Homo sapiens: one gene and its partners. The protein of the gene in region 4 purifies or fractionates together with the protein of the main gene of each other region. This does not show direct contact. Each region holds a gene or a part of one and is shown on either strand. Other genes may lie near its edges.

Evidence for each region. The genes of interacting proteins can lie anywhere in the genome.
Region 1: the proteins of USP49 (region 4) and SHPRH purify together in Homo sapiens (affinity purification with mass spectrometry; one large-scale study listed by BioGRID and IntAct). This does not show direct contact.
Region 2: the proteins of USP49 (region 4) and IMPG1 purify together in Homo sapiens (affinity purification with mass spectrometry; one large-scale study listed by BioGRID and IntAct). This does not show direct contact.
Region 3: the proteins of USP49 (region 4) and PAX9 purify together in Homo sapiens (affinity purification with western blotting; one study listed by BioGRID). This does not show direct contact.

Annotation. Positions count from the first base shown.
Region 1 is NC_000006.12:145,942,848-145,947,358, forward strand, and holds part of SHPRH (E3 ubiquitin-protein ligase SHPRH), read right to left. Parts: intron 3,495-4,511; coding exon 3,386-3,494; intron 2,791-3,385; coding exon 2,534-2,790; intron 956-2,533; coding exon 296-955; intron 1-295. UniProt on the Homo sapiens protein: E3 ubiquitin-protein ligase involved in DNA repair.
Region 2 is NC_000006.12:76,061,652-76,066,162, reverse strand, and holds part of IMPG1 (interphotoreceptor matrix proteoglycan 1 isoform 1 precursor), read left to right. Parts: intron 1-4,511. UniProt on the Homo sapiens protein: Chondroitin sulfate-, heparin- and hyaluronan-binding protein. May serve to form a basic macromolecular scaffold comprising the insoluble interphotoreceptor matrix.
Region 3 is NC_000014.9:36,668,360-36,672,870, forward strand, and holds part of PAX9 (paired box protein Pax-9), read left to right. Parts: intron 1-4,511. UniProt on the Homo sapiens protein: Transcription factor required for normal development of thymus, parathyroid glands, ultimobranchial bodies, teeth, skeletal elements of skull and larynx as well as distal limbs.
Region 4 is NC_000006.12:41,794,376-41,799,897, forward strand, and holds part of USP49 (ubiquitin carboxyl-terminal hydrolase 49), read right to left. Parts: coding exon 5,455-5,522; intron 4,555-5,454; coding exon 4,349-4,554; coding exon of another isoform or gene 4,302-4,348; exon of another isoform or gene 3,270-4,301; intron 2,349-3,269; coding exon 2,158-2,348; 3' UTR 1-2,157. UniProt on the Homo sapiens protein: Deubiquitinase that plays a role in several cellular processes including transcriptional regulation, cell cycle progression or innate immunity.

The sequences.
Region 1 (4,511 bases), about 100 Mb from region 4:
CTATAAATGCTTATACCAAGAATTTCTCATTTACATACTCAAGAATTTTTAAAAAGCTTCCACATCTTTATACTCAAAATGCTTTAATTGGTGAAATTCTGATGTTAGAAAAGAATAACATTGTACTGTTCTAGTTCTTAGTCTCAATTTTTTTCTTTAAGCTTTGATTTAACATTACTATTAAATCATTCAGTTAGTTTTGAGGATAAACCACAAAGAAACAAAGATTAGGAAACTATCATGAAGAAGCAAAACTTTACATTTTCCTCTCCCTCTTTAGTCCAAGTGGCCTTACCAAGACTCGAAGAGATGACGACCTCACATGCCTGTTGATCTCATCCACCCACTGGTGACAGATGGAACTTGGAGAGATGATCAGAGTTGCTCTTGTTGACACTGGTTCCATTGCAACAAGGCAGTGGGGGCAGTAAAAAGGCTTGATCTTCAGATTTTTCTCATCATAATTCACACACTTTGCATGTTGCCACAGGTGACACTTCAGGCATTGAACACGAGGCTTACGATCTATCTGATCAAGTTCACCACATATACACTCAAAGCGGTAATCAGAGGTGTTAAAGGGACTCATGGTATTAGAAGGTGGTACATCACTATCAGCATGATTTAGAGATTCAGCACAGTCCTCTGTTTCATGTTCTTGGTTGAATTCAGAGATACATGTACTTTTAGACATAGCAACATCAGTTATTCCAGAGTCGCTAGTAGCTGGACAGTGACCTTGTGAATCGGGATTGATAAATGGTTGACTTTTTCCTTTTTTTGTGGATGGAACAAGCTTTTTCCTCAATTTACTGCGATTTCTCCTGGACTTATAATAATAATAGTAAGGATCATCATCATCATCAGAGGTGTCTGATGGCAAGTATTCAGAATCTGTGTCCTTGTTCCCTGATTTTCTAGTTTCTTTCTGAATTTTCCTTGGACTCCCTACTGCCTATGAAAAAAATATTTAATTAATTGATTGCAACTAGTTGCATTTCTGAAATTAAACTCCTGACTTTATGTAAGTACTTCATATAATTATGTAGCAGCCAGTCTTTGCTACCCTTTTCCCTGAGGAGAATCACTCCTGATAAGTGGCTTCCAATCTGCCCTCTGTAAGGACCCTCACTTCATCTCAAAACAAAAGGAAGGCTCTACAAGTGTCAGATTTGGAGAGATGAAAAATTAGAAAGATAAAGGAAGCTACTGATATTTTGTTATTTACCTACTATGATTTAGTCTACCTAAATCAATACAAGACTAGTACTTTTCGAGTACATAAATATACAAATCAGGGCAACTACAAAAACACCAAGTACTAAAATATAGCATCCAAAGAAAGTAAAAGATAATCCACTGGTTACTGCAATTAGCAAATTGATTCCTTCTTTCCTTCCCTTTTCTACATATGTCCTCTCTTACAATTACTTATTAAATGCCAATTCTGTGCCAGTAGTTGTGTTAGATGCTAGGGACACAAATATGAACAATATTTGGCCCCCGGTTTCAAAGGGGTCTACTGGAAAAGTGAGAACAGTAAAAAGTAAAATGATGCTATGGGAATACCTAAGAGGGTTGTACAACATAGTGGGAGTATGATAGGCAGGTAGTTAATAGGGACAGCTTCCTCCAAGGCATATCAGGGCTGAGGTCGAACAGGGGAGTTAAGACACAACATGTAATCAATGGCATTAACTGAGGGAAATCTTCTAGTTTTGGTGGTAGCAGGATTACCAAAAGCACAGTTCACTGCTGTCTTCAGTGCTACCCAAGGATAATATAGACTCCCTACTCCAGAAAATAAATTTTTTGTCTTTTTCTTGGTGGCCGAGCTGGTAGCTCCACATTTTGACTTGTTGTCATTAATCTTTATTTATGATTGCAAATATTATAACTATTTTCCTAAAAGCAAATTGAAATTACTGGCCCAACAGAAGCAGTTTTCTAACAAAATGCAGAAATTGTATAAGATAATAATATAAAGAAAATGAGAATTTAGAAGTTCCAGACCTGCCTGGGCAACATAGTGAGAACCCCGTCTCTACAAAAAAACAAGAAAAATTAACCAGGCATGGTGACATGAGCCTGTACTCACAACTACTTGGGAAGCTAAGGCAAGATGACAGCTTGGCACAGGAGTTCAAGGCTGCAGCTAGCTATGACCACTGCATTCTAGCCAGGGCAATAGATGCCCTGTGTCTTAAAAAAATAATAAAAATAAATAATACAGAAGATGCTTTATACTCTATAATACGCTTAGCCAACTAGTTTTTTAATTCACTCAATAAATATCTGAGTATTTGTTACGTGCCAAGCATTATTCTCTAGGTTTAATGATAGCCAAAGTAAAGTTACTCTCACGGAGTTTATATCCACAAAGTAGAAAGTAGAAGTTACAGATATAAGTACTTTTCCTATTTTTTTATCTTCAGATCGTAAGAGTTTCAGTTTCAAGGTGGGATCTGTCAATGTACTCAGTAAGGTATCACATACGTGTACTTAATATAGAGCTGAACTTAAGCTCTGTTACCTGCTTTTTTGTTTTATCACATATATCCTCTTCCTTGTAATTCTTTCCCAATGTAAAAGTCCCAGAAAAACCATGGCCTTTGATCTGTTTCACGAGACCTTCAAAAATTAAACATTTCAGCATCCGTTTCAAAAGACTCCTGTTCCGTTGAACATCGTATCTATATATAGAACTGACATACTTATAGATGGAAAGGATGGACACTCCTTTTTTTCCATTCATTTCTTTCACAGCTGTCAGTATCATCACACGTGTAGCTAAATGTAAAAGGATATGCTAAATCAGTCAAAATAATTAAAATGAAAAGAAAGTAAAACTTGGTTAATCTTAATCTGCATGAGGACTGAGTTAAGAAAGAAATAAATCAAAGATTTATTACAGCAGAGTGCCATTTTGAAAAAATATGTAATAAAAATGTATCTCAGCATATTAAGAAACAAATTACTGTAATAAAAATAATCAAAGGAAGAATTACTCATATTGAATTGTTAATACTATAAAACAATCATTCAAAATTATAAAAGAAAACTCTCACAATTATTTAAGTATACGCTACCATTAGTATGCGAAACATTCATTTCCTAAAAGATAAATAAAGCCTGGTTTAAACTGTAAGCTAAAGAGATTTAAATATAACAGACTGAGCAAGAACTACCTGGGCCAAGTCAAACAAAATAATACATCTTTACTTTTGTTAAGATATTATGACTTGTAATTGAATTCATTTATCAAAAGCATATATAACTGTAAAAACAATTGTTTATAACAATTACAAGATATCTCTAAGGATTGCAAGAACTCTAGCAAAGATCACTATAAGAAGGTATTTCCTTTAAGAGATGTCTTACTTACGAGGGCATTGAACTTTTTCTTTTGGTTCAAATTCGATATTCTGGATTTCTGTCTTTTTCAGTTTTCCTCCAAAATAATGTGACGGAATAAAATAATTCACCACTTTTCCCTGATACAAACAACAGTCAGTAGTTACACAGTGTTTTGCTTTCAGTATTCTGAATTGCTTATTGAAATTAACTTTCCTTCTTTATGGAAATGCAAAACAGTTCTAAAAAAATTGCAAGAGAAAGGGCCAAATAGCTGTAGATACATACACAGTTTTATTTCTGAGTTTACAGCTAGCTATCACTTAAAAAATTGTGCATATTATCTTAAATTACCTAAATGTTATGTGTGGAACCTCTGAAATTAACTTTTAAAGGTATATTTAAATATAAAATTAACCCATTGAATTTATAATAATATGAAAATAACTTGGAATTAAAATAGTAATGAGTAGGAAATCTCAGAAAGAAGTTACTGATAGTTAAGTCAATATATTCCAAGTCATTTGTCTACAAAAAAAACATTTTTTTTTTAAATTTTCTACTCAAATCTGAAAGGCTAATTCTGCAAACTTGACCCTACTGAAAGATAACATAATGCTAAAGCTGTGAGACTGGTGGGTCCTAGAGGTAATTAATTATAATTATACCTTTAACTACTGACTTCATTTCAGCAAGATTTAATGTAAGGGCTGATTTCAGATTTCATTACTAGAAAATATGAGCTATATACTATATTTGCCTTAGTGGACTTTGTTTCTGTAACTCTAAAATTTATATTTTTAAACACAATTATGTATTTTGGGACAAGGACTTGAAGTTTGTTTCATTTAGCAATCTATTTACTAAGCTACTTGTTCTTTAACAAAGTTCTAATTATTTGGTTCTAAGATTTATATATATGAGATTTGTATAACATTTTTAAATAGCTCTTAAAAATATTTAGTAGTAATATGGAGACTTTATTAGTGACAAAACATTTGAGGAGTCAACAGTACTTTTGTAAAGGAGTTTCTCTGCCAACTAGAAGAAAGTTCAGTAAGTGATCACAAATTCTCTTCCTAGTTGGCCAACATTACTTCAAAAATAAACCTTCTGGGTCACAAACACCCCATTCTCTCTGCCCACTTGAAGTTAAC
Region 2 (4,511 bases), about 34 Mb from region 4:
CAGTTGTGTACTTTTATAACACCTGTATTGTATTTATGTTTGTTTTTATGATGGCAAATATTGTTTTTTCATTTCCATATTTAAAATTCCCTTGAGCATTTCTCATAGGGGTGGTCTAGAGGTGACAAATTTTCTTAGCATTTGCTTGTCTGGGAAAGACTTTATTTCCCCTTCATTTATGAAACTTAGTTTTTCAGGGTACAAAATTTATTGTTGACAGTTTTTCTTTATGCAGTCTGAAAATAGGACCTCAGTCTCTTCTGTTTTTAAGGTTTCTGCTGAGAAGTCTGCTGCTAATACTATGAGATTTCACTTATAGGTGATTAGAGGCTTTTCTCTTGCTGATTTTAGGATTTTTTTCTTCACACTGATTTTGGATAATCTGATGACTATATATCTCTGTGAAGTTCATTTTGCAATGGATGTTTCTGGAGTTCTCTGAGCCTCTTATAACTGGATGTCTAAATTTCTAGTAAAATTAGGGAAGTTTTCCTGAATTTCCTAAATTATATTTTCCAATCCTTTTACTTCTTATTTTCCCTCAGAAATACCTATTACATATAGGTTTGGATGTTTTACATAATCCCCCACTTCATGAAGGCTTTGTCCTTTTTAAAATTTTTTTATTCTTGTCTGACTGGGTTAATTCAAAAATCTGCCTTCAAGCTCTGATATTCTTTCTTTCACTTGGTCTAGTCTATTGTTAAAACTTTTTACAGCATTTTGTAATTCCTTCAATGAATTTTTTATTTGCAGACATCCTATCAGGTTTTTTATTTTAAATATTTATCTCTTTAGTAAATTTCTTCTTGAATTGTTTTTCTGATTTCTTTGTATTTGTTTTCAACTTTCTCTTAGAGCTCATTAAGCTTCTTTAAAATTAATATTTTGACTTCTTTATCTGGTATTTCAAAGATTTCATTTTGGTTAAGATCCATTGTGGGAGAGCTAGTGTAATCTTTTGGGGATCCTGTAACCCTCTGTTTTTTCACCAGAGTTTCACAGAGTTTCTTCTTATCTGCATAAACTACCTCTTCTTTCATTTTTGAATTTATTTGCATTTGGACAGGATTTTTTCCCCTTCAGGATGTAACTATAATGTATGTTGTATATACATTATAGTTACATCCTGAAGGGAGAAAAATAGTCTTTTGGCTTTGGTTCTGGGTGCTTTCACTGGCAATGACTCTATATGAGTTCCTTAGTTGTAGGTAGCCTTTGTACTAGGCATGTGAGCAAGTTCATTGTCTCCTATGGTGCCAATATGGCAGAGGTCTCAGGAAGCCAGCACTGTGCACTTGTGCCAGCAGATTGTGTATTAGGTTGTGCAGTTCCATCTCCAGGCCAGCAGGTAGTACTTACTTACTGGTAAGAGCCAGCTGAAGCAGAAGCTGATAGGTATATGCTTGATCTTTGTTTACCAGGAGAGGTTCTCCATTGTTCCAGGCAATGGGCTGATCTATGGAATGCACAGTGGCCTGAGCTCCCTCAGCACCTAAGTGAGAGACAATGCTGTGTGGAGTTGGACTGCCAAGCCCACCCTTGGATACCCCAATGGCAGGCACAAACAAGCCCTAAGAGGGGTGGCAAGGGAAGCTCCCGGTGAAATGTGCTGAGGTCTCCCCAGTGAGGAGAGGGAGCTACCTCAGCTCCATGGCTTGGGCAGGCAGAAACACAGTCTTCTTCCCTGTCATATTCCTGGCCCAGCTCTCAGGACACTCAGATTGTACAGACACCACTGCCTATCTCCAAGCTCCAATTTAGCCAATGGCCATTAAAAAAAAAAAAAAAAGAAAAAAAAATGGTTGCCCCATGGCTCTCCACTAAAATGTCTGTGGTGCAGAACCTCCTCCCTCAGCCCTGTTCTATGCAACAGGAACACTGCCACTCCATGACAGAAGGGGAGACACCTTACCTTTCCTGCAAGCCCCAGCCTGGTAGGCACATAGCCAGCAGGGATGCAGTAATTCCCAATAGCCCTAGAATGGCTGTCCTCCATTCTACCCCTAGAATGGCTGTCCTTTATTCTAGCAAGATTACACATGCCGTAACCTTCAGGAAGAGCAGCCTGTATCCACAACTGTATCCACAACAGTGGGTGGGGTAGGGAGATGAGTAGTCCCCCTCTCCATTCCTGTGCCTCAGCACTGAGGCTGCCTGACTGCTGGGGTGGACCATACTCTTCCCCATAGGGCTGAACACAACACCCACATCTCCTCTAGAAGCAGTGCAGTTACTCTCAGTCCATAAGCGGGAAGCTCTTGAGCACCAGAAAGCACACACTCTGGGTTCCTTTGTGCAAAGGGGTGCTCCCTTGGTGCACTGCACTCTTTTCCTTTAGGAGCAGCACTCCCTGAGGGCTGGAACAAGAGGAATACTGCAGCTCTCTTGGAGTCACCCAGCCCTATGTGGCTGCTGCAATTTTAGCAGATGCTGGGGAATGCCTGTGAGGAATTGGCAATGTGGAAACACAAGGGCTGAGATTTCCTGGGCAGAACTCAGTCATTCAATGGATGCAGCCCAAGAATCGTGCCTGCCACTGCAGTTTGGGTAGAGAAGGAGGACAAGCAACCCTGTACATGCTGGTATACTAGTGCAATGCCCTCAAGAAGTCACCAAATCACTGCCACACCAGTGTTTGGGTTCATGAGGACAGAGGAGCTCTCTGACATTTCAGATACCAAGGATCTGCCACCAGGGCAAGGAGAAACAAAAACACTCCCGCTAATCCTTTTCATGAAATACCAAGCCCCTCTGGGTTTCATCTCTGACAACCTCTTGCTTCCTTCTTTTCCTGTGCCCTAGTTTCTTCTGGTGAGTTCTCCTCTAGGCTCCAGCACTTTCCTCTTGAAATTCTGTGTAAAATCATTCAACTGTAACTTTGAGTCTTCTTTCTTTTTCTTTCTTATTTTATTTTAATTTAATTTATTTCATTTTATTTATTTTATTTTATTTTTTTGAGATGGAGTCTCACTTTATCACCCAGGCTGGAATGCAGTGGCACCGTCTCAGCTCACTACAACCTCTGCCTCCTGTGTTCCAGCGATTCGCCTGCCTCAGCCTCCCAAGTAGCTGTGACTACAGGTGCCTGCCACCATGCCTGGCTAATTTTTGTATTTTCAGTAGAGGCAGGGTTTCACTATATTGGCCAGGCTGGTCTCGAACTCCTGACCTCAAATAATCCACTCACCTCGGCCTCCTAAAGTGCTGGGATTACAGGCGTGAGCCACCCCAAGTCTTCTTTCTAAGGAGAACTGGCATCCATTCTCTCCAGTTAGCCATACTAGGGGAAAAAAAAAAAAAAAAACCTAACTTGCTACTCATTTAGGGCTTTTTATTTCATAAGTATCTTAGATGTGTTAGATCTGTGAATATATGTTAATCTTCAATTATTGAGGTCTATATTAATTAAAGTTTTACCTCAGCCAACTGGTTTCTTATTTGTAACCAATTAACCACCATGAGTGTATTTACATAGAAAAGTGTTTGGGGAGAGAAAAGAAAGGTTCAATTCAACACAACTAGCTGGTAAGCATAACGATTGGGTGTTTAGCTAAATTCAACGTTTCATTTTAAAAGATGAGTAGTTTTGAAAAAATAGGAGATGAAAATTACCAATAGTAGTTCCATCCAAACACAACCTATGCCAGCACTACTTTTTCTAGGTATGTGTATTTAATTTTTACATAATTGCAGTTCTACCACACACAAATTTTATATCAGCCTTTTTGTAGTTTTATTATGTCATATAAATGTTCTACATTGCCATCTAATTTTGACAAGCATCATTTTATTGGCTGCATAATGTTTCTTTCAGTAAATGTGTCAAGATTTGCTTTATCTAAATATTCAACAAAAGAAAACTAATTGTTACTAATTATTTTGTTATGGCAAATAACATTGCAATAAAGAGCTTTGCACATAAGCCTCAGTATTTAAGACTCAGCATAAATTCACTGAAGTAAAATTATTGAGTCAAAGCAATGTAAACAGCTTTATGGTATTTGATTCATATTGCCAAATTGTTTCTCAAAAGTTTTCCTATGCCCTTAGATGACTTTTTACCAATTTGATTCTACAGAATGCTTACCATATACCCAATACTGTGCTAGATACAGAATATACAATGATTTAAAGACATGCCAATATTTCAAAAGGCTTCTTTTAAGTTTTGCAGATTCTGAATGTAGTTTTTCACAGATACATAAAGGTGAGATAGCTTTGATTTCAAAATATTCATTAAATAAAATTGTTTTAGCACAAAAAAAGACAGTTGAAGAGCTCAAAGAACAATTACTTCAAAAAGACACCAAGGCTCCTTTCTTTGAGGTTCATAATGGAAATACCAGTTGCATCTGATATGTGCATCACTGCTTTTATGTTCTTACTTTTCCATTTCACCTAAATAATTTCATTTAATTGCTTGTGACATTCAATGTATAAGAGAAAGAGAAAAAAGAAAATTTACCCTTGCCAAGTCCTAAAATGGAAATAATGTTTATCTTAGTATG
Region 3 (4,511 bases), on a different chromosome or scaffold from region 4:
ATAATCCCAAAAAAAACCCTTTATACTTATTATTTATTTATTTATTTTGAGACGGAGTCTAGCTCTGTCGCCAGGTTGGAGTGCAGTGGCGCGATCTCTACTTATTGCAGCCTCTGCCTCCCGGGTTCAAGCGGTTCTCCTGCCTCAGCCTCCTGAGTAGCTGGGATTACAGGCACGCGCCGCCACACCCACCTAATTTTTGTGTTTTTAGTAGAGAGAGGGTTTCACCATGTTGGCCTGGCTGGTCTTGATCTCCTGACCTCGTGATCCACCCACCTCGGCCTCCCAAAGTGCTGGGATTACAGGCGTGAGCCACCGTGCCGGCCAGTAATTTTTATTTTCTCTTCCTTGAATTATAGATCTAACATTGAAATTTGTTTGGAAATGCTTAATTTATAATACACTTCAAAACTAAACTGACAAATTATTTAAAATAAAAAATTTGAAGTTTTAAATAATTGATATTCTGATTATTAAAAATAGATTACATTTTATATACTAAATTTTAAATCACTAAATTATCACATTTATAAAAGAATATAATTTAAAGAAATAAGTAACCAAATAAATATTGCTCTAAATACTTAATAAGCTATTTTTTCCAGAATAAAAATATTTATATGAAACTTACATTTGCGAAGTTCTTAATTGCAATATGCTAATCTTCTGCATTGCAATGTATTTAATAGTTAGATAATTCAAATGATGTAAAATTTCAAAACCTGAAAAGTTTCTAAGAATAATATAAATTAGTGGCTACTCTATGATAATTATCAAAATAGTGCTTAATGTTGAAGATGTGCCAAGTTCAGCCGTGCCATTTTTCTGAGCAGTTTTGAACTTTAGACATTGATTTCATGTAAGGTTAAATTGCACATTAATACTTGTTTATAAACATACAAAGGTAAAGTGTTGCCCATATATGTGCATTTCTCTTACCAATATTCAAAGGGCAGATTTATTTTTAAAAGTTATTTTTCAAAATGGAATCAGCATATTTCAACCAAAATGTAAACTCTGGTAACACGTATTTTTCCCTCTGCTTATATTATGGACAATAACTTGAATGTCTTTGGCCAAAAAAAAGCTTTAAAATTTTTCCCACTTTCAGGGCATTTGTGATTGTTATTAAATAGTGCAAAATTATATGATACTAGTTTAATTTTATTATACAAAGAAGGAAATTGAGAATTCAGAATCATAGAGCTTAAAGCATATTTTTCTTGAGGACATCTGTAGAATTACCAAAGGGCTAAACTATGCAACTGAGTATAGATACTATTGATTACCATAATCTAGAGTTTCTATTTTCAGCTTAAACTGTAAAGACAGATGTCCTGATTCCTAGTAATTAAAACTGTATGCACATTTCAGCTATGCATATACCTATCTTTTGTCTTTGAAAATTCAGTGTAGAATATTCTAACTTGTCTTACATATTAATATTACATTGTAATTAATATTTTGCAGTGCCATTCAGAAGTCCTTATTGTCTCTGAGGATAGAATATTTATTTTGGCTTTTTTATACCCACAGTTAATATTGGGGCTAGAAGTACTTAATTCCATTTACTTCTGAATGGCAACAATGTTCTCTGCTTCCTGATGGCCGGTTCTCTTCTGTTGAAAGCATAAAACTCCAATGGAATAAAATTGAGTGGCCAAAAAACCTTATATAGAGAATCATAGGGACTGGAATACATTTGCCCTTTTAGGAAGTATTTCATGAATTAATGCCTCAATTTTATTCAAACTATATATAAATAATTGTATAGTTCTTGAAAAATTTTCTACAAATGGGCATACTGTCTCAAGAAAGATACATTGCATATCTGATACTCTAAAGTAATTGGAGTGACAGATTTATAAGCTTTGGGTATCTTCATTTTGGGGTTGCAGATATTAATTTGGCAAGTTTAATATAACACTAGCTACAGACTGAGATGTCAGAAATAGAGAATAGTCTATAAATACTTGAACTTTTTAAAAGTTCAGAATTAAGTTGTGAAAATAGTTGAATTTAAAGATATAATCTGAAATTCTTATGAAGCATTTACTTGCACATGCATTTGAAGTGAAGATAGTCTTCTAGAATCCTGAATGTGATTTTCTAGTGTATTATTTTAAAAACTGGCTGTCCTTGTGGATGTACTATTCTCAGGAAGATATAAATGATATTGCACTAAATTTGTCTTCATATTAAAGTTAATTTTTGTAAATAAGTTATGATTTATAGACAATGAAATCTTAGGCAAATGCCAGCAGAGTGTCTTTGAAATTCATAATGTTATCTGTTATGAAAAACATTCTTTGACCTGGTTACATTTTAACCAGTAGTATTTCAAAATAAAATTAATGATCATGTATCAGTAAAATGTATTGTATAAAATAGCAGGGAAAGGTAATTGCAAATTTTTCAAGGCTATGTCAATTTTAATAATATTTTGGAAAATTATAAAATTTAGAAAAGCTTTTAAATAGCGGCTTTCCATTTCTTAGAGACATTTACATCTACAATATGATAAGTAAGCATAATTAAGATCTTGTTGGATGAATGTTGAAACCATATTTATAACCATCATTTCATTTTGTCAGGTATGTTTTACTAGGTCATTGCATAATGCATTAAAAATGGAAGAATGACAGAAAAATGAGTTCACCAAAAAAGAGAAAATCTTGTTTATTTTCAGATCCAAAACTTTTTCTTGCTTATGATATCGAGGTTGAAATTCTAGGTGAAGCACATCTCTATTTGTGGCTAAATCTACTTTATTATAAAGCCAAGGTAAATTCATTTTATCATAAGAGGACCAGGTTGAACTGATAAGTGAAAGCAGATTGTGGGTAGAGGACCTGGCACTGTTATTTGCATTTATCTTCACGATAAATAATGTTGAGTAGACAATTCCCAGAATTTGAATAATGGTCTATAACCTCTAACTGCCAGACATTTGCCATACCAGTTTTATGGTGGTCACAAGTGTTTTGATACTAACGTATTTTCCTTTACTTGGAGGAGGGAGGATAAATGGAATAACCATAAATCAAGTAATAAATGGCTAGGTTAGAACTTCTGTTTACTTTTTTCAACAGCTTTATTCATTTTGCTTGCTTAAAGTGTAATGCTTGTTTTGTGATAAACGGTGCCTACATTTTTGCTTTGTTTTTTAAGCTACAGTGTCACATCTTTTGCTTTCACAAACCTATACTAACTTAAATATACATATGGTTGTGGAATGCTTATGATGTATCCTGTTTTGTGGGGATACAAGATGATTAAGGCAAGTCCCTGTCCTCAGACAGTTTACAATCTAGCCCTCTGCCAATACAGTTCCTCAACATATTCACCAAAGTTACTTTTAAAAAATTGGTAAATCTGTATTTTGAACATTTGGAACAAACGAAATTAAAACTTGTACTTTCATTCTTCTTGTGATAACCTTAACTAGAAGAACTACATTGCATCTTATATATTTTTTTCTAGACTATTTCCGTTAATGTCAGTGTGATGAAGTTGGTCTTTTCCTAAAAGTATTAAAACAAAGCAGTAACTTACTTTTTCTAGGGTATGCAATTTAGTCTATTTTGCTTTGTATTAGTAAATCTCCTTCTCAAATTTAGGTAGAAGATAGTTTGCTATAGAGAGCACCCTTGCACAGTTCTTTCAGGGGAAAGAATTCTCATGCCTTTCATGGAAGATCCACATGAGAAAGGAGTTGATGGATTGAAGTCTTATTTATGGAATCTTTAGGTAAAGTCATTTTCAAAAATGAGATTTCCATTACATGCCCATTGCTGGGGTTTCATTTGGAAAATTTGTTTACTCTTCCCTGGGGATTCCGTATGTTGGTTGATTTATAAATCATATTTACAATCCAATTAAATAGAGTAATTTAGCATGTTTGCTCCCACTATATTTATAGTGTAGATTTGGTAGTCTCTACTCAGCCTAACTAGCTTTTCAGATTAATTACATGCCCTTCACTGAAAACATTAAACCGATTTGGGACGTTTAAGTCATGTACTCTTTTACTGGAAAGAATAAACAAACATCAATGCTACCTGTAGTTGTTTTCCTTTGCGGTGGAAAATTTTACTTTTTCAGTGATTGCTTCATAAATAACAATTACTTGACCCAGTAGAGATTTATATCTTTTACTAATGTTATGTGTCAAAATTAATAGTGAGAAAATTGATGTGTTTATTGAGTCACTAAAATGAATAAATAATGAAGGTGGCAGGAGGCAGGTAAATTTTAAAGCACATTTACTTGCTCCTTTTTTTTCTAAATTTATAAATCTGAGCTTCAAAAGTAAAAAGTAAAATTAAGACAAAACTCTCCAGACCCCCAAGCTAGGGTCATAATTTAACCTGAGAGAAAACTAAGGGCTATTTTTATACTGTTTAAGTTTAAAGATTTATGTTTGTTTTTTTTTTTAAGCAAACGTTTTAGCCTCTCCTTGCCTTTTTCTTTTTTCTTTCTTTCTTTCTTCCTTTTTTTTTTTTTTTTTT
Region 4 (5,522 bases):
TTAAATGTTTATTAATAATTATCCCCACTGGACAGCCTGAGGGGTAAAGTAGATGCTCTATTAGTTCTTCTCTATCTTGTAAGTTCTTTTTTTCTAGAATAATAAATATAGGATTCAATGAAAGATGAGGCACGATTCATAGTTTCCTTTCCTTTTTACTCTCCTTGGTTTTTTTGAGTTAATGGGCTTTTCTATTGCCACAAAAAGTCATTACTAATCATGCCGACTTAAAAACGTGGATCTTGAGAGTACAGCTTCACATCAGAGCCTCTGGCAGCATGGACAGCGGTGACACTTTAAAACAGTGTCCAGGAGAGGGTGAGCCCAGGCAAAGCTTATACAAAGAAGCCTGCAGTAGACAATATAAACCAAACAGCATAAAAAATGCCATACGCTATCGCTTCCAAATAAAAGCTAAATATTACAGAAACCTCACAGTGTTGGAAAAAGCAAGTTTAATTTAAAATATAGTCACTCCTTCCCTATCAGGGTGAGCCATTTTTTGTCTGAATTTCCTCCATGTCTCAGTGCTGCCTGGCAGGGCCTATGGGAGAGTTCATCTCAAAAGAGGTCAACAGCAAATGCTACAGATCTGTGTGGGAAATGTGGCTCATCAACATTGCTAAAGCTATAACCCTCATTCTTTAGCCTGGCTTTCCCCACTTCCCACTCCTCCCCGAACGCCCTTCCACATCTACTCCCTTCAAGTGACAACTGTACTTCTACCTGAATTCAAACATTAATATGATATACTCAGTCAAAAGATGAGCATTCATAGTGACAGGTTGAGTGAGGCTCACTGCAGTGACCACAGCAACAAAAGTTAGGGTTTGCATTCACTTTCACCAGCAAATCTAAGTGAAGAACTAAGAATGAAGTGGTGCCTGATGGGGACAAGGGTTTTTATCTGGGCAATTTCATTCTGTTTAGAAACTGACCCAATTTAAAAAGGAAGATGTATTTTACTAGCACTGGGGGAAAGGACGGGGCACTCTTGTTTTTTTCTCTGATGGACTGAGTATGGGGGGTAAAGCAACAGTAGGGATTATCAGATTTGGGAGGAAACAGGTCAAGGCCATTGGTAATCAACTCTTCAGATATGTACGAGGTGGACTCCTAAGCAGTTAACATACCCTAGAGAACCAAAAGCTCCCAAACCCTGTGAACATGAATGTTCTAGCTCTCCAGGAGCAAGAAAGAAGCTGCAGGCTAAGAAGCTGCATGCCGCACTGAAGTGAGAACGGGTGACAGGCCTTCAATAAGCCCTGGAGCATCAGCTATCTCTGCCCACCCTCAATTGAGTTCTGAGAAAACCTAAGAATCAATTTAAACCAAACCATGTGCTTGCCCTAGACCTGAACCAGGGATCTGCTACAGAACTGAGATAGCCAGGAGTGTCCTTTGGCTCAGCATGGAACATGTGCTAGTCTATTGCTTCTTTATATGACCTGCCCCTTCTTTAGAATGAAGGGGTATTCATGCCAGTCTCAGAAGTATGGAATGATTATATGACAGCAGCAAGTAGGGAGGGTATGACATATGAAAACCATCCCACTTTGCATGGGGAAATTTGTTCCATGCATCTCACTCCACTCTTCAGCTGCTATCCCCAAAAAAGGAAGTTTGTTTTAAACCCTTGAAGGTTACTTCCTTTGTGGGAATAAACCCTTTAGACTTCATCTCCCATCTTGGAGCCAATCCCATCCAGCAAACTGCTAGCCCAGGGCCCCTCCTCACGTGCTCTGTCCAGGACTGCTCACATCCGGAGGGTTCTTCTGGTGCTGCAAGGAGGTCCTGATTAGCAGGGGAATCACATCATGGAGAGAAAACATGGCTGCTCTCCTGTGTGGATATGATTGATTTACCCCCCCGCCCCGCTTTCCTCCACCCAGATCCCTCTATATTCAGAAGCAACTGATGAAAGGATCTTCATAGAAGTTACTTCTTTTGTTTTTAGGAAAGGAGGGAACTCCCAAACTCATTCAAAAGAAAGAGACTATAAAATTTACGACAGGACACGAATCACCTGGCACCTTCTACTCTAGACCCAGCAAGGCAAACCTAGTAATCTGTTCCTGCAGTAGCCTTATTTCCTATAAGAGGAAAGATGTATGGACACCAATACACAAAAGCCAGTCTTTGATACATGCCTCCCATTCAGGAAAATGTCTGTGGTCTGCCTTCATCATTGTTGCTGGACTGCACCTGAGCTTGGAGATGGGTTTCTGAGATTCTTGCATTGCCCTGCACTGTTCTTTGAGTGTAAAAAAGGATGTAGGCCTGGGTTTTGCACACTTCCTCGACACTGCATACATTCAGCTTTGAGTCATTGCAGTGGACCCAAAAACCTAGGAAACCAAAGGAGAAAAAGAGAGAAAATGACTACCCAATTCATATTTTAGTCAGCAGGCAAAATCAGGAGATGAAGAAAGGGACAGAGAAGTTCTGAATAGAGCCAACCCTCGATTATTGGTGGGGAAGGGACAGGTAAATGAAACTGACAGACTTTTGTGTATCCACTGGCTTTAACCCCACCAAGCCCCACGGTACTGCTTATCGACTGACTGCAATTTTTTTTTTTTTTTTTTTTTTGAGACAGAGTCTCGCTCTGTCACCCAGGCTGGAGTGCAGTGGTGGGTTCTCGGCTCACTGCAAGCTCCACCTCCCAGGTTCACGCCATTCTCCTGCCATTCTCCTGCCTCAGCCTCTCGAGTAGCTGGGACTACAGGTGCCCACCACCACGCCCGGCTAATTCTTTGTATTTTTAGTAGAGACGGGGCTTCACCATGTTAGCCAGGATGGTCTCGACCTCCTGACCTCGTGATCCGCCCGCCTCGGCCTCCCAGAGTGCTGGGATTACAGGCGTGAGCCACCGCACCCAGCCGACTGACTGCAATTTTTATCTTTGTTTTCTTCAGGCTTTTTCATTGTCCACTAGGGCCTTCTAGAAAGAGCTGCGATACTGCAGGCTAAGCAATGGGGAGATGAGGAGGAAGAGGAGGAGGAGAGGAGAAATGGAAATAGAGGGGAGTGATGAAGGAAAATTTAGAAGGAACAAAAAAGTATTTATTCACAAGCTCTGGCTGCCCCAAGGGCTGTGCAGTTCAAGAAGAGTGAACAGCTGAAAACACATCTGCAGCCCATCAGTCAGTGCAGTAGCTGGAAGACTCCACTCTGGAGGATGAGGACCTAAAGCTCCTTTGGAGGGGCCCTTGCATCCCCACACTTCCCATGGCAGGGGAAGTAGTAAGAACATAGTAAGTGCTCAGTAAATGTTCTCGGCTTTATTATAAGCTGCGGCTAGTGAGATTCATACAATATCTCCTTGAGGTTACACAGGTTCTACTGTTTCTGCATAACCAAGAAGGAAACTGGGGTGTGCAGAAGTAGCATTACCACAAAACAGTAATATTATCAATAACCAATACTTTTGATAATACTACAATATCCTCTAACACTGACTGAATAAGTACTATGTGGTAGGCAACTGCTCTTCTTATTTATTTATTTGAGTCAGGATCTCACTCTGTTGCCCAGGCTAGAATGCAGTGGTGAAATCATAGCTCATTGCAACTTCAAACTCCTGGGCTTGAGCAATTCTCCCACCTCAGCCTCCCAAGTAGCTAGGATCACAGGTGCACACCATTACACCTGGATAATTTTTAAATTTTTTGTAGAGATGCAGTCTCGCTATGTTGCCCAGGCTAGTCTTGAACCCTCGGCCTCAAGCAATCCTCCCGCCTCTGCCTCCCAAAGTGTTGGAATTACAGGTGTGAGCCATTGCACAGGGCCTAGGTCCTGTTCTAAGCACTTTTACATGTCAGTTCCTTTTAATTCTTAGAACAACCATATGTTGTTACTTAGTAATATACCCAAAATTTGAATCCAACTTTCATAATTCTTTTTATTTTTTTTGAGATAAGAGTCTTGCTCTGTCACCCAGGCTGAAGTGCAGTGGCATAATCTTGGCTCACTGCAACCTCTGCCTCCCAGGTTCAAGCGATTCTCCTGCCTCAGCCTCTTGAGTACCTGGGATTACCAGTGCCCACCACCACGCCCGGCTAATTTTTGTACTATTTTAGTAGAGACGGGGTTTAACCATGTTGGCCAGGCTGGTCTCGAACTCCTGACCTCAGGTGATCCACCCACCGCGGCCTCCCAAAGCGCTAGGATTACAGGTGTGAGCCACGGCGCCCAACCCAATTTTCACAATTCTTTCCACTGGATTTTTGATGTATGTAATTTCCCTCTAGGTAATCCATGGGATGGAAATAAAAGGAAAACAATAAAATGTGGACAAATCAACCCCTTTCCGTGTCCCCCACCCCACAGAGTAAAGCGCACGCACCTCCCTCTGTGTTGTAGCAATAGGCTGTGTAGTGTCCTGAGCCAAACCCTTTCCCGTGATGCATGACCACTGCGGAGAGATCATAGGCAAAGGTCTCTTTGTCAAGAGAGGAGAGCATGTCCCTGCAGCAGTAAGGTTCCATGGTTAATACCTGGTCAAAGACGACATGGACCCCAATCTTCTCTCGATGATTACGGCCAGACCACCTAGAACATGGATATAAGCTTGTTACTAGTAAAAACTGGCATATATAATCGTAGGTAGAGGTAGGTATTAATAAAACAGGAAACTGAGAAAATTTAACCTTCTGGTTTTGGTTTTCCCATCAATAAAATGGTGGTAATCAATGTTCACACTTATTTATTTATTTATTTATTTATTTATTTATTTATTTTCAGACAGGGTCTCACTCTGTTGCCCAGGCTGCAGTGCAGTGGTGTGATTGATAAAGGCTCACTGCAGCTTCAACCTTCCCGAGCTCAGGTGATCCCCCCACCTCAGCCTCCCGAGTAGGTGGGACTATAGGTGCACACCACCATGCCTGGCTAATTTTTGCATTTTTTGTAGAGACAGGGTTTTAACCATGTTGCCGAGGCTGGTCTCAAACTCCTGAGCTCAAGCAATCTGCCTACCTTGGCCTCCCAAAGTTCTAGGGTTACAGTCATGAGCCACTGCGCCTGGCCCATTTATTTGCTGTTAATGTTCCATGAAGTACTCTAAACCTAGAGATCCCTAAACAAGCAATTCAAGCAACAGTCTTTTTGTAGTTTCCTGCCTGTGCTTCTTTTGCAGATTATTTTATACTTCATCCTGAAGATGAATCTACATAAGTCCAAGCCAGGCTAGAAAATCTTTAAGCACAGACACCCAGTGCAGGCTGGATAATTAATTACACAGGAGCATGAGAGCAAAAGCCCAGTCCTGCTGGGCTCCCACATCAATTTGCCTTAGTGGATGTGAACAGTTTAATCTCCATGGAAAACACGAGGTCTCAAGTGAACAGGCTTCCCCTCCCAACACCATAGAAGACATTTGCCCTCACCAAAGCCTTTGGAGCAGCTATTCCCACAGCTCTCACCCAGCTGGGACTCCCACAGCAAGCTCACCTGAATCTTTTAAGGTGCAGCCGGAGAACCTGAGGTAGTCTGTAGATCATTAACTGCTTTCTAGCTTC